Linked DNA regions of Homo sapiens: region 2 is linked to region 1. Evidence: fine-mapped expression QTL. Tissue or cell type: whole blood. Region 1 holds a variant in brackets; the other region holds the start of a gene. All regions are shown on one strand. Distances are between the middles of the regions.

Region 1 (5,527 bases):
CCAGGAATTCTAGAGAAATTGTGCAGTAACTTATAATGAGGGTTAAAATATTTCCCAATGAAGTAATATAATTAAATGGTACATTATAAGTAAAAAAATGTAAAAACAGTCTATATTATAGCTATTCTATAATATATTACAGCTATTCTATAATATATTACATATAATTATTATATAATGTAATGCTATATGCTCTTATGTTCAAATATGAATAGAAAAATTTTATAAGGATAAATAGCACAATGGGTAAATGATAAAATTTCACAGCTAAAATTGTGGCCTTAAGATGCTCTGATTCCAATACGTTAAAGTAGAGAGCTTTTAAAAAGAATTTATGATATGATAATGATTTTATAACATTGGAAACATTCAAACATTTTTCTTTGGGCTCTAATTGTATCTGACTCCCCATTTATATGTTTTCTTCTTTATTCTAATAAATTGACTTCTGTTCTACAGTTGTTCAGGTTAAATCCATAAGGAAATATTTAGCTTTTTTCCTCCTGAAGTTTCCAATTTTGGGGGTAATTTTAAGCATAAATATAAACATAATCAAATATGAAATAAATGAAAATGAGATCCACAAACGTGGGATTAGCAGTTCACTTTGTTACCATCTTTATCAACTTTAGCAGCTTGATCATGGAGGACATTTTCTGACTTTGTTTTGGCTTCTTCGGTGTCCACTAAAGAGCTGCCTCTGTCCCTTTGGGAGCCTTGAATGTACCCTGCAATGAAAGAATAATATACTTTATCAGCTAATCTATTTATATTAGGGATGATTTGGTCAATAACATCAGCAATATATTTCTTTACCTTCTTCATCAATTGATGAGTGTGTTGCCTCCATTGGGAATACTCCAAACTCCATTTTTTCATATTGCCTTTGAAATTCTCTTAAAGCTGTTTCAGCTGAAATATAACAATGGGTGGTGTTAGCAAAACGTAGTTGGGGATAGAAAAACAGGTAGAGTGACCAAAAGCCCCTGCTTCAAAGTTAGACACAGTTGAGTTTCAGTTCTGACTTATAAGCTGTAAGGGCTGTGTGACTTTGGTAAATCACTTGATCTTTTTGTCTCAATTTCTAGGCAAAATGAGGATCTTTAAACTGAAAGCACTGCTGTGAGGATTAAATGAGGTAATGAATATAAATACTTAACTTGGAAAATGCTGGCACACAGGAAGGCTGTTCCATGTTAGCTGCCATCCTCTGTATAATCATGTAATTTTTATGTTAAAAAAACCTCAATATTCTCCACTGACAAATTTTTCTTAAAAATATATTGAGGCAAACTTCAACAGCAAAAAATTCCAATTTAAAATTTTAAGTAGAGTTACTCCTATTGTCAGATTTAGAATAATTAGTGAATTTGGAAAAGAAAATAAAAAGGCTTTTAAGTTTGCAGCATATGAGAGATAGCATCTATTGCTATATTCCAGTGGGAGAAGGCAATTTGTGGAAAGCTGTAAAATCTATGATTTAATGTTATAATTTAATGTGAAAGAAACATTACAGATCACTGTTCTTCCTCCAGGAGCCCGGCTAACTTCCTGCCTTGGTCCAGGTCTCAGTCAAACGTCCCCTCTTTGGAGAGGTCTTCCCTGGGCATCCCAACACTTCAGTATCCCTACTCCAATCACTGTCTGCCCCATTACCATGTTGTATTTTTTTTCCATCTGTTCCCTTGGCTTTTTTTTTTTTTTGCCTTCTGCCTTCTATTAAAATGTGAGCACCACAAGGATAGGGACTTCATGTGTCTTGTTCTCATCTGTATTGCTGGTGCCTAGAATAAAGTCTAATACAAAGTAGGTATTCAAGTATTTGTTGAATGAATTAATAAATTCATTTTGTCCAGCCTTAAATAGGTTGAATAACAAGCCACTTTAGTAGACTGAGCCAATATTTCTCCAGCTTCAGTTTGTAAGTTGACTGAGATATTTTAAAATTTTAATTTTAATTTTGAAGGTATTATACTAAAAATATAACTTCACTCTAGATTGTCTGGATAACCATTTGGATGGCATGCAATTTCAGTGCTGGTCTTTTTGTTGTTTTTTGTAATCTCTTGGGCACCATGTTGAATTATTTTATTTGTTTATAGGCTGAGAAAGAAGAGAGGCAGATTTATTAGGTAAATACTGTGTTCTCATCTAGCAAAAACTCAACACAGAGAAGTAATTTCCTTGCTATTTAAATAGTTTCAAGCATGCAAAATGTTGAGAAGCTTCCCAATTTATGTAAAAAGTTAAAAAAGAAACGATAGCAAACTCTGACAAATAGAGAACATCTCCCCCGCTCAACTATAAACCAGTCACACCTAAGAATGTAGGGGAAAAGTCCTAAATAAACAAACAAAAGTAAAAAAAATGTTATAAGAATAATGAAACTAGGCACAGCGGCTCATGCCTGTAATCGCAGCACTTTGGGAGGCCAAGGCCGGAGGATCACTTGAGGCCAGGAGTTAGAGACCAGCCTGGACATCATACTGAGACCCCTGTCTCTGCCAGAAAAAAAAAAATCACAACCACTATTTGACATTAATTGCTTACCTACATAATTAGTCAAGAAAGGAAATAAATATAAGTATTGGAAAAAGAGGGGTTTAAACTATACTTCTTTTCAAATTATGTGATTAGCTCTCTGGAAAACCCAAGAGAATCAACTGAAAGTCCAACTGAAACGAAGTAAGGTTTATTTCAGAAATACAAGAATTGTTTAATGTTGGAAAATACATTAGTATAACTGATCAAATCAATAGGTCAAAGGATTAAAAACTTAATGATTTTCTTGAAAGATGCTGGCAATACATTTGATAATTTTC[AT/A]TTTTTTTTCTTTCTTTTTTTTTTGACACAGGTTGGAGTGTGGTGATGTGATCATAGCTTACTGCAGCCTCAACCTCCTGGGCTCAAGTGATCCTCCCATCTCAGCCTCCTGAGTAGCTGAGTCTACAGGTGTGGACCCCCACACCCAACTAATTTTTTTTTTTTGGTAGAAATAATGTCTCCCTTTGTTGCCCAGGCTGATCTTGAACTCTTAGCCTCAAGAGATCGTCCCACTTTGGCTTCGCAGAGCATTGGGATTACAGGTATGAGCCACTGACCTTGACTGCTTTTGGCAATTTTCAATATCTATTCCAGATAAAAATACTTAATAACCTGATGGAGAAATATTGACCAGAACCCCTTTAAAGATGGTCAGTATCACAACCACTATTTGACATTCTAGAATTGCTCACCTACCTAATTAGTCAAGAAAGGAAATAAATATAAGTATTGGAAAAAGAGGGGTTTAAACTATACTTCTTTTCAAATTATATGATTAGCTCTCTGGAAAACCCAAGAGAATCAACTGAAAGTCCATCAGAACTAGAAAGTAAGTTTAATAAACTAGATAGTTATAAATAAATATATGAAAATCAAATAGCTTTCCAACATACTGTTAATAACTACTTAGAAAATATTATAAAAAGATCCCATTCACTAGTAATAAAATGACAAAATATCTGGAAATAAGCTTATTAAGAAAACTGTAGACAACACATGAAGAAAGCTACCAAATATTATGGAAAGACAAAACTAGACTAAAAAATGGAGATTTCATGTCTGCATGAGAAGATCTAATAGTAAATATGAGAACTCTTACCAAATTATTATATAATATTAATACAATCCTCCCATTTGGATTTGTTGTAGAACTTGAGAAAAATTCTACAAGCATCCTAACATCTAGTACAGTTTCTGGCAAACAATAAGCACCCATTTCATGGAACAAATGAAGAAATAATCAGGAAACAACTTAAAACAAAATGTTTTGAGGGAGGATTTATATTATCACAAGAGTAAAAATGTATCATAAAGCTTTGATAATTACATTATGTATTAAAAGTTTACTATAAATATCAATAGAATAGAAATTCCAGAAGTTTATACATACACACACAAACTTAATATTAGGATAAAGTTGGCATTTCAAACCTCCAGTAAAATTATGGATAATTTAGTAATTGTTATTTGTAACATTGGCTCAGCATTTGGGAAAAATAATGAATTTAGAGATATATCTAATACAAAATGTATTATAATAATTACATCTTAATTAGAAAGAAGTATTATTTTAAAATCAGTGAATGTAATTTTGCGTATACCATAGGATCACAATTAACCATTACAAACATGAATAGAAAAAAAGAGAGCAGCAAAGAATAAGAATGGTTCTCGTTCTAAGTATGAGTGAGTTTTCCTTCTATCTGCTTTTTCTGGTTTTCTGTGCTCACTTGAGAGACACAGTAAAGAAGAGCACATTTATTTGAATCCCAATCACTTGCTGGCTGTTGACTCTTAAATAATCCCTCTGAGTTTCTTCAACCACTAGAATTGGCCATAAGAACATCTACCGTGCAAACTTGTCATGAGGATTAAATAGGATAATACATGCAATGCAGTTAGCATAGCTCCAGCCTGTAGTAAATGCATCACGAATGGCTATTATTACTTTTGTCATCAGAAAAACATAATTAGGAAAAGGATATTTGGAATGGATGCACTGATGGCCACAGAGTGCACTGCCATAGCTTCTGGGACTCTGAACAGTGGTGACTGAATCTAGCTAAAATTGCTGAAGCTAATCCCAGATTTTGGATTTAGATTTTTGAAAGTGAGGAAGATCCCATGTTGTACATAGGAAATGTTGCATTAAGGACATTCCATTAAGAGGAAAGGTTTAGATTAAGCTACTTTCATGTGTTCTAATATGATTAGTTACAAGACTACCAACTAGAGATAGAAAGTCTGCAAAAACCAATCAATGAACATCAAAAGTAGTCATGAAATGAGAACTCTCATTTTTCCTGGAGAAAAACAGAAAAAAAAAAACAAAACGCTTTTTGTCTATTCTGCAATGTGATCAACAGTCAGTGAGACACAGGAAGAGGCAGAATGGTCAGGAGAAAGACCACCAGGACTTTGGAAATGAGGGATCAAGTCTCAGCTATGCTACCCGCTGGGTGATTTCCAGGGAGCCATTCAACCTCCATGAACCTCAGTTCTCTCAACTATAAAATTAGAGAAGGGTGTTAAGTGATCACAAAGGCTTCTTCTAGTTTCATCGCATTAAATTAATCTTTCCCAAATAGAAAGATTTAGTCACAATCAGGACTGCCATATAAGTCTAAAACAACAAACTCCACAAGAGTCAGGTGGATTCTTCCTGTTGTTTTAATGACTGGTGTAGATAAAGGTGTAAATCCTGATCAAACAGTCTGCCCAGTAAGGTAGACCCATTGGAGAAAGAAATCCAAATTTAGAGGCTCATTCTGATTCATTCCTTAGAGGTCTAGAATTGAAAGTTTTTTTCTCTGCTTTTGAATTGGTTTATGTACATCCATTCTTCAACCATTTGTTAAGAGTCTATAATGTGTAAAGTGCCAAGAATGCCAAGATGAGCTAAACAAAGTCCTTGCTTTCAAGTAGCCCGGCTTAATTTTTACCTAAACTTAAAACACACATTTTAAAAAGATGTTTCACCTTG
Region 2 (5,000 bases), 160 kb before region 1:
CTCTAGGCCCAAGCTCACCCGCCCCTCCAGGCCACCACGTGGTGCTCACTGATGTGGTCCAGGGTGCCGGTGCAGAAGCGCCCGTAGAACTTCTTAGCACCGAGTGCCCGCAGGTCGTGGATGGTGAAGGGCCAGAGGTGGAGCACGTTGTGGCGAGAGAACTTGGTGCGCTTTTCCACCAGCACCACTCGGGCCCCCAGCAGCGCCAGCTCCACAGCGACCCGCAGCCCGCAAGGTCCAGCACCCACCACCAGGCACTGTGAACACACAGGGCAGTGAGGGCATGGCATCCTGTCCGTCCTCTGACTCCCCGCATGCTCCACACCCCATCCCAGGCACCGTGTATCCACCTTGGTGCTGGTGCAGGCCCGGCCCTGCTGGTAGACAGGCTGGCCTGCTCGCTTGTCCAGCTTGGTCCACAGTGACTTGGCGCTCCAGTAGTTGAGCTGGTCCTTGATCTTGTGGTACTGGGGCAGCCCCCCACCGGGTTCCAGCCCCAGGGCCCCACACAGCTCCTGGAAGCTGCTCAGCACGTCCTGGCACAGCTGGGCCTGCAGGAAGCTCTCAAAGTGGGCATGCGCTGGGTTGGTGGAGGTAGGTGAAGCCATGGAGGCCTCCTGGGGAGGGCAGCAGCTGGGCAGAGATGAGTGGCTGGAGAGGTGGAAAAAGAAGGGGAAGAGGCTGGAGAACAGAAGAAATAAAAAGGAAGGGGAGGCGAAGAGAGCAGGCTGGTGTCCCCAGGGAGCTCGGGATTCACCAGTGATTGGCTCTGCTCCTCCCAGCCCATTCCCCTGCCAGCATCTGCTCCAGAGACAGCTGCTATCCAGTCCACTCCAAGTGAAATTTGCCAAATTTGGAAGTGAAAAACATTAGTCTTGGGCACAGAGGGCACATGGGACACCAGGGGAGCCTCCAGTTCAGCCTCCCTGTCCAGGGATCTCCAAGCCCTGGGGTAGGAATTCTTAGCCTGCCTTCCTTAGGCCTTGGAATCAGGGTGTGCGGGGATTTCTTAGATGTGGAGAGGACAGAGCTGCCTTTGCATGCAACACAGGGACAGATCTGATACCCACAACCCCAGCTGCTGAGCATACATCCTGCCCCATCTCCCTCCAAGCGTCCCTGTGCCGGCGCCCCTTGATGGCCTCAGTGCCACGCTGTGTCTGAGAAGTGTCTCATGGCAAGGGCAAAGTTTTCCTCAGCACTCGTGCTTGCCTCCTGACAGAGAAACAGCCTCTGTCCGCGTAGGTTCCACTTCCCTCCACCAAACTGCCTCAACAAACGGCGGGAGGATGTTGCGACTGACTGGGGAACGGAGGCCTGGGTCTATTTCTGACGCACTGTGGTCAAAACACTTCCTCTGTGAATGTGCCCTACTCCAGGGGGCCGTGGGTAGGGCTGGGGGTCGACCGCAGCCGGGTGCGCCCCTCCCAGGTTCCCCCCTCCCTGATCGACCCCTACCCCGCCCCGCCCCCTGTGCGCCCGGGCGCGCTCTCCCAGGAATCTCCGGAGACAAAGCCTCGCTTTGTCGCCCCCTCCCACGCCACCTGAAGGGTGCCCGAGGGGGTTTCTCACGCGGGGCCCAGAAGGTATCAGAGGGTATGGAGGAGGCGGGTGTCCACGGCAGCGTTAGGGAGGGTGAATGGCAGCAGTGGGGGCAGGTCCCTGAGGCTCAGGCCCCTCCACCATCCAGCTGCCCCTCCGTTCCCAGCCCGCCGCGCCGAGACAGGAGATGAAAGCCTCCCGCTGCGGGTGGCCCGGACGAGGGCAGACGGAATCTCATGACGGAAGGGCAAAGATCTTTCTTGGGGGTGGAGGGTGGAAGGAGGAAGACCTCGGCGAAAGGGGAGAAAGGAGCGACCCAGCCTGGAAACGCCAGGACAAAGGCTGTGAGAGGGGTGGAGCGGTCTGAAAGGATGGAGAGGGAGCTGGACCGCGGGCGGCAGCGGTGGGGGTCCCCGACACTGGACGGCAAAGTCCGGACGCGGCGTGAGCAGGGCTGGGCTGAGGGAAGACCTGCCTGACCTGCCAGGCGTGGTTCCCGAGCGACCGCAGCTGCGTTTCCCCGGAAGCGCACCCCACCTCACCCCACCCGGCCGCGGGGCTCGCAGCCGGCTCCGCTGGACGACTTACCGGCGGCTCCGAAGCCGGGAGGGGCCGCTTCCTGTTGGGCTGGCAACCAGGTCTGAGCGGGTGGGAGGGCGGGGGCGGGGGCGGGGGCGGAAACGCCGAGATCGGGCGGGGATGCTGGGATGCGGGGCGGCCCGGGGCGTGCGCCTGGAGTCGCGCGGAGTGTGGGCTTCCGCGAGGGGCGCGGGGCGCCGCCCGGGCTTTATTCGCGACTCATTAGCATCTCATTACTTCTGGATCCCTCTACCGCCTCCAGCGGGGACAGTCTTGGGCCCGCCCATGCCTGCAGGGTGGCGCCCGAGGGCGTGGCGCTGCGGACACCCCGTTCCGCTCTGGGGCCTCTGGGTGGGTCTGGCCTGTTGGGGGCTGAGGAGCTCGAGGGTCAGGGCGCCCAGTGCTGGACCGCGCACCCTCGGCCTGGGCTCCTTGCCGGTGCTTGCGCGTGCAAGGCTAGCTCTTTCCCCGCCGCAAGGCGAGGACCACCCGCCCCCGCCGCGGTCCCAGGTCCGCTGGCAGCCTCCCAGCGCCGGGCCGAGAGGGCGCTCAGGCTCCTCAAGAGGTTTGGAAAAGCCGGCGGGTCCGAGGGTGGCGCCGGAACGTCTGCGCTCTCCTCCGGTCTCCCACCTGGAGATCCACGGCCCGGGCGCCCCAGGATGGATCCAAGCGCAGAGTGCGCCTCCTGTGACAGAGGTCGACCCCTAAGCCCGGGCCGAGGGCAAAGGGCGCGGATTAAAGTCCTGGAAACTCAGCAATCTGCAGCTTCCAAATGGATATGAGAAGTGAGAGGGAAGGGGATGGCGGGGCGGGTTAGACCACCACTAAGAGATGGGGAATGGGAGGGGTGTGTGGAAGAGAGACCAAGTCTTCAAAGAATGCCTTAGAGTGAGGACCCACGGGACTGTCTGCTGAAAAGGGCTGGAGAGGCCTTTGGGATCAGCTTCGTCGTATTCCCGATAAGGAACAGCGCCTAAAGTGAAGGGACGCGTCCAGTCTTTTAGCTAGTTAATATTAAAAAACATCGTCTCATTTATTGACCGTCATCCTATGAGTATTACCTCAACATCAGTGCTTGCAACAGTCCCATTTTACCAAAAAGGAAACTGAGTCACAGATGTTCTGTGATCTGCACACAGCAAGTGGCAGAGCTGTTTGGGGGCCCAGGTCTGTCGGCTCCACCACCCCAGGGTTGACCCAAAATGACGCATGAAAGGCTGGCATTATAAGATGCTGTTTCTTGTTTAGACGAAGTGATACTGTTACACTGGAAGCACTAATAAAACCCAGGTATAAATAAGAGGGTTGCTGTCCTTGAGATCCAGAGACCATAAAGAGCTGGGAGGGAATAGGGCCTCTCCCTTTATTCTCATTTTGCATTTCATCTGGAAAATATCTGAGACCCAGTAAGACCTGAACACTCACTGTTCCCAGCTCGAGCTGAGAAGCAGGCAGTGGGACGAAAGCAAGGGGAAATGCCTGTTCTCTGCCAGGAGAGGCGAGGGAATTCAGCCAGGTCACGCTCAGAAAACTAGGGCAGCCTCTCAGTTGGGCCCATCCTAGCTTTTGAGTGTGACACGTCATTTGGCTTGAAATGAATTTGCCGAATATCAGACACACCCATATTTAAATACATGGTGTAAAAACGTTCTAAAGTCCACTACAGCTGGGTTACCCTGGGCTCCACCACCCCAGGGTTGATTCAAAATGATGCGTGAAAGGCTGGCATTATACGAAGCTATGTCTTGTTTAGAGGAAGTGAACTGTCACGCTGGAAACACTAATAAAACCGAGGAATAAAGAGGAGGGTTGCTGTCCTTGAGATCCAGAGACCATAAGAGATCCAGAGACCATAAGAGATCCCGAGACAGTCCCTGGCTTCTAGAATAATCTCATTTCCCTTTCACTAGCAGATGGTACACAACTAGCCGCTCCACTTACTACAACTACAGCGGCTACAACTAGCCGCTCCACTTTGCAAAGGCTTAGTGGGGTCTGGCTTGACTCAATGCCTTTTGCCAAGCAGGGTCATGTGGCTCTATGAATGACACATCATAAAATTTGTCTTTAAAGAAGATCAGAGAACAATAATGAGTTCATCAGTGCTAAAAACTGCTGACTTGAAGTTTCAACTTATGCTAATTAAATACTTAACATGGGGGCATAAAGCAGCAGGGAATACATTGTTCTGGAATCCAGAAGGTCTGGTTGGATTCCAGCTTTGCTTCACGCTAGCCTAGTGTGACCTTGGATGTCACCAACCACACTTCGTCTGCCCATCTCTAAATGGAGGCAGTTTAATTACTCAGCCTTCTCAGCCCATTTCTACTCCAAAATCCTATCATTCAATGCTGTCCTAAGAAATGAACAGACTAGAAGACCCAAACCAAGTTCTACTTAGAATTTCTTCCAAGAAAAAAAAAAAAAACTCTATTAAAGCTATTTATTAACCACAAGAATTTCTCTCCTTAATTAGAATCTTGAGTCATGATTCAAATTATGTGTATGTAGAACTAAAAATACTGGCACAATCACATTGGCCAATTCATATTGGATCAAATAAGTGGGTGACACATGAAGTCAGTTTAAAGAGTCCCATTCTAAGGCTGGGCACAGTGGCTCATGCCTGTAATCCCAGCACTTTGGGAGGCTGAGGCGGGCAGATCACCTGAGGTCGGGAGTTCGAGACCAGCCTGAGCAACATGGAGAAACCCCAACTCTATGAAAAATACAAAATTAGCCAGGCATGGTGGCACATGCCTGTAATCCCAGCTACTCAGGAAGGCTGAGGCAGGAGAATCGCTTGAACTCGGGAGGTGGAGGTTGCGGTAAGCTGAGATCGTTCCATTGCACTCCAGCCTGGGCAACGAGGGTGAAAC

What was found. PIP is the estimated chance that this variant, and not a neighbour inherited with it, causes the effect.
Region 2: MICAL1 starts here. The variant in region 1 is fine-mapped to the expression of MICAL1 in whole blood (TOPMed, PIP above 0.99).

Annotation. Positions count from the first base shown.
Region 1 is chr6:109,613,569-109,619,095 of GRCh38, forward strand. AK9 (adenylate kinase 9) reads right to left here. Exons shown (of 41, transcript NM_001145128.3): 13 at 5,524-5,527; 14 at 817-912; 15 at 615-728. Among named protein-coding and RNA genes, the nearest start is that of AK9, 75 kb to the right of the region's middle. The variant AT/A (reference allele first, on the strand shown) is at 2,823.
Region 2 is chr6:109,453,589-109,458,588 of GRCh38, forward strand. It overlaps MICAL1 (microtubule associated monooxygenase, calponin and LIM domain containing 1), which reads right to left and starts at 2,184. Exons shown (of 25, transcript NM_022765.4): 1 at 2,131-2,184; 2 at 351-651; 3 at 50-257. The coding sequence starts at 608. RefSeq lists enhancers at 776-825, 1,056-1,105, 1,188-1,696 and silencers at 1,256-1,595, 1,956-2,805.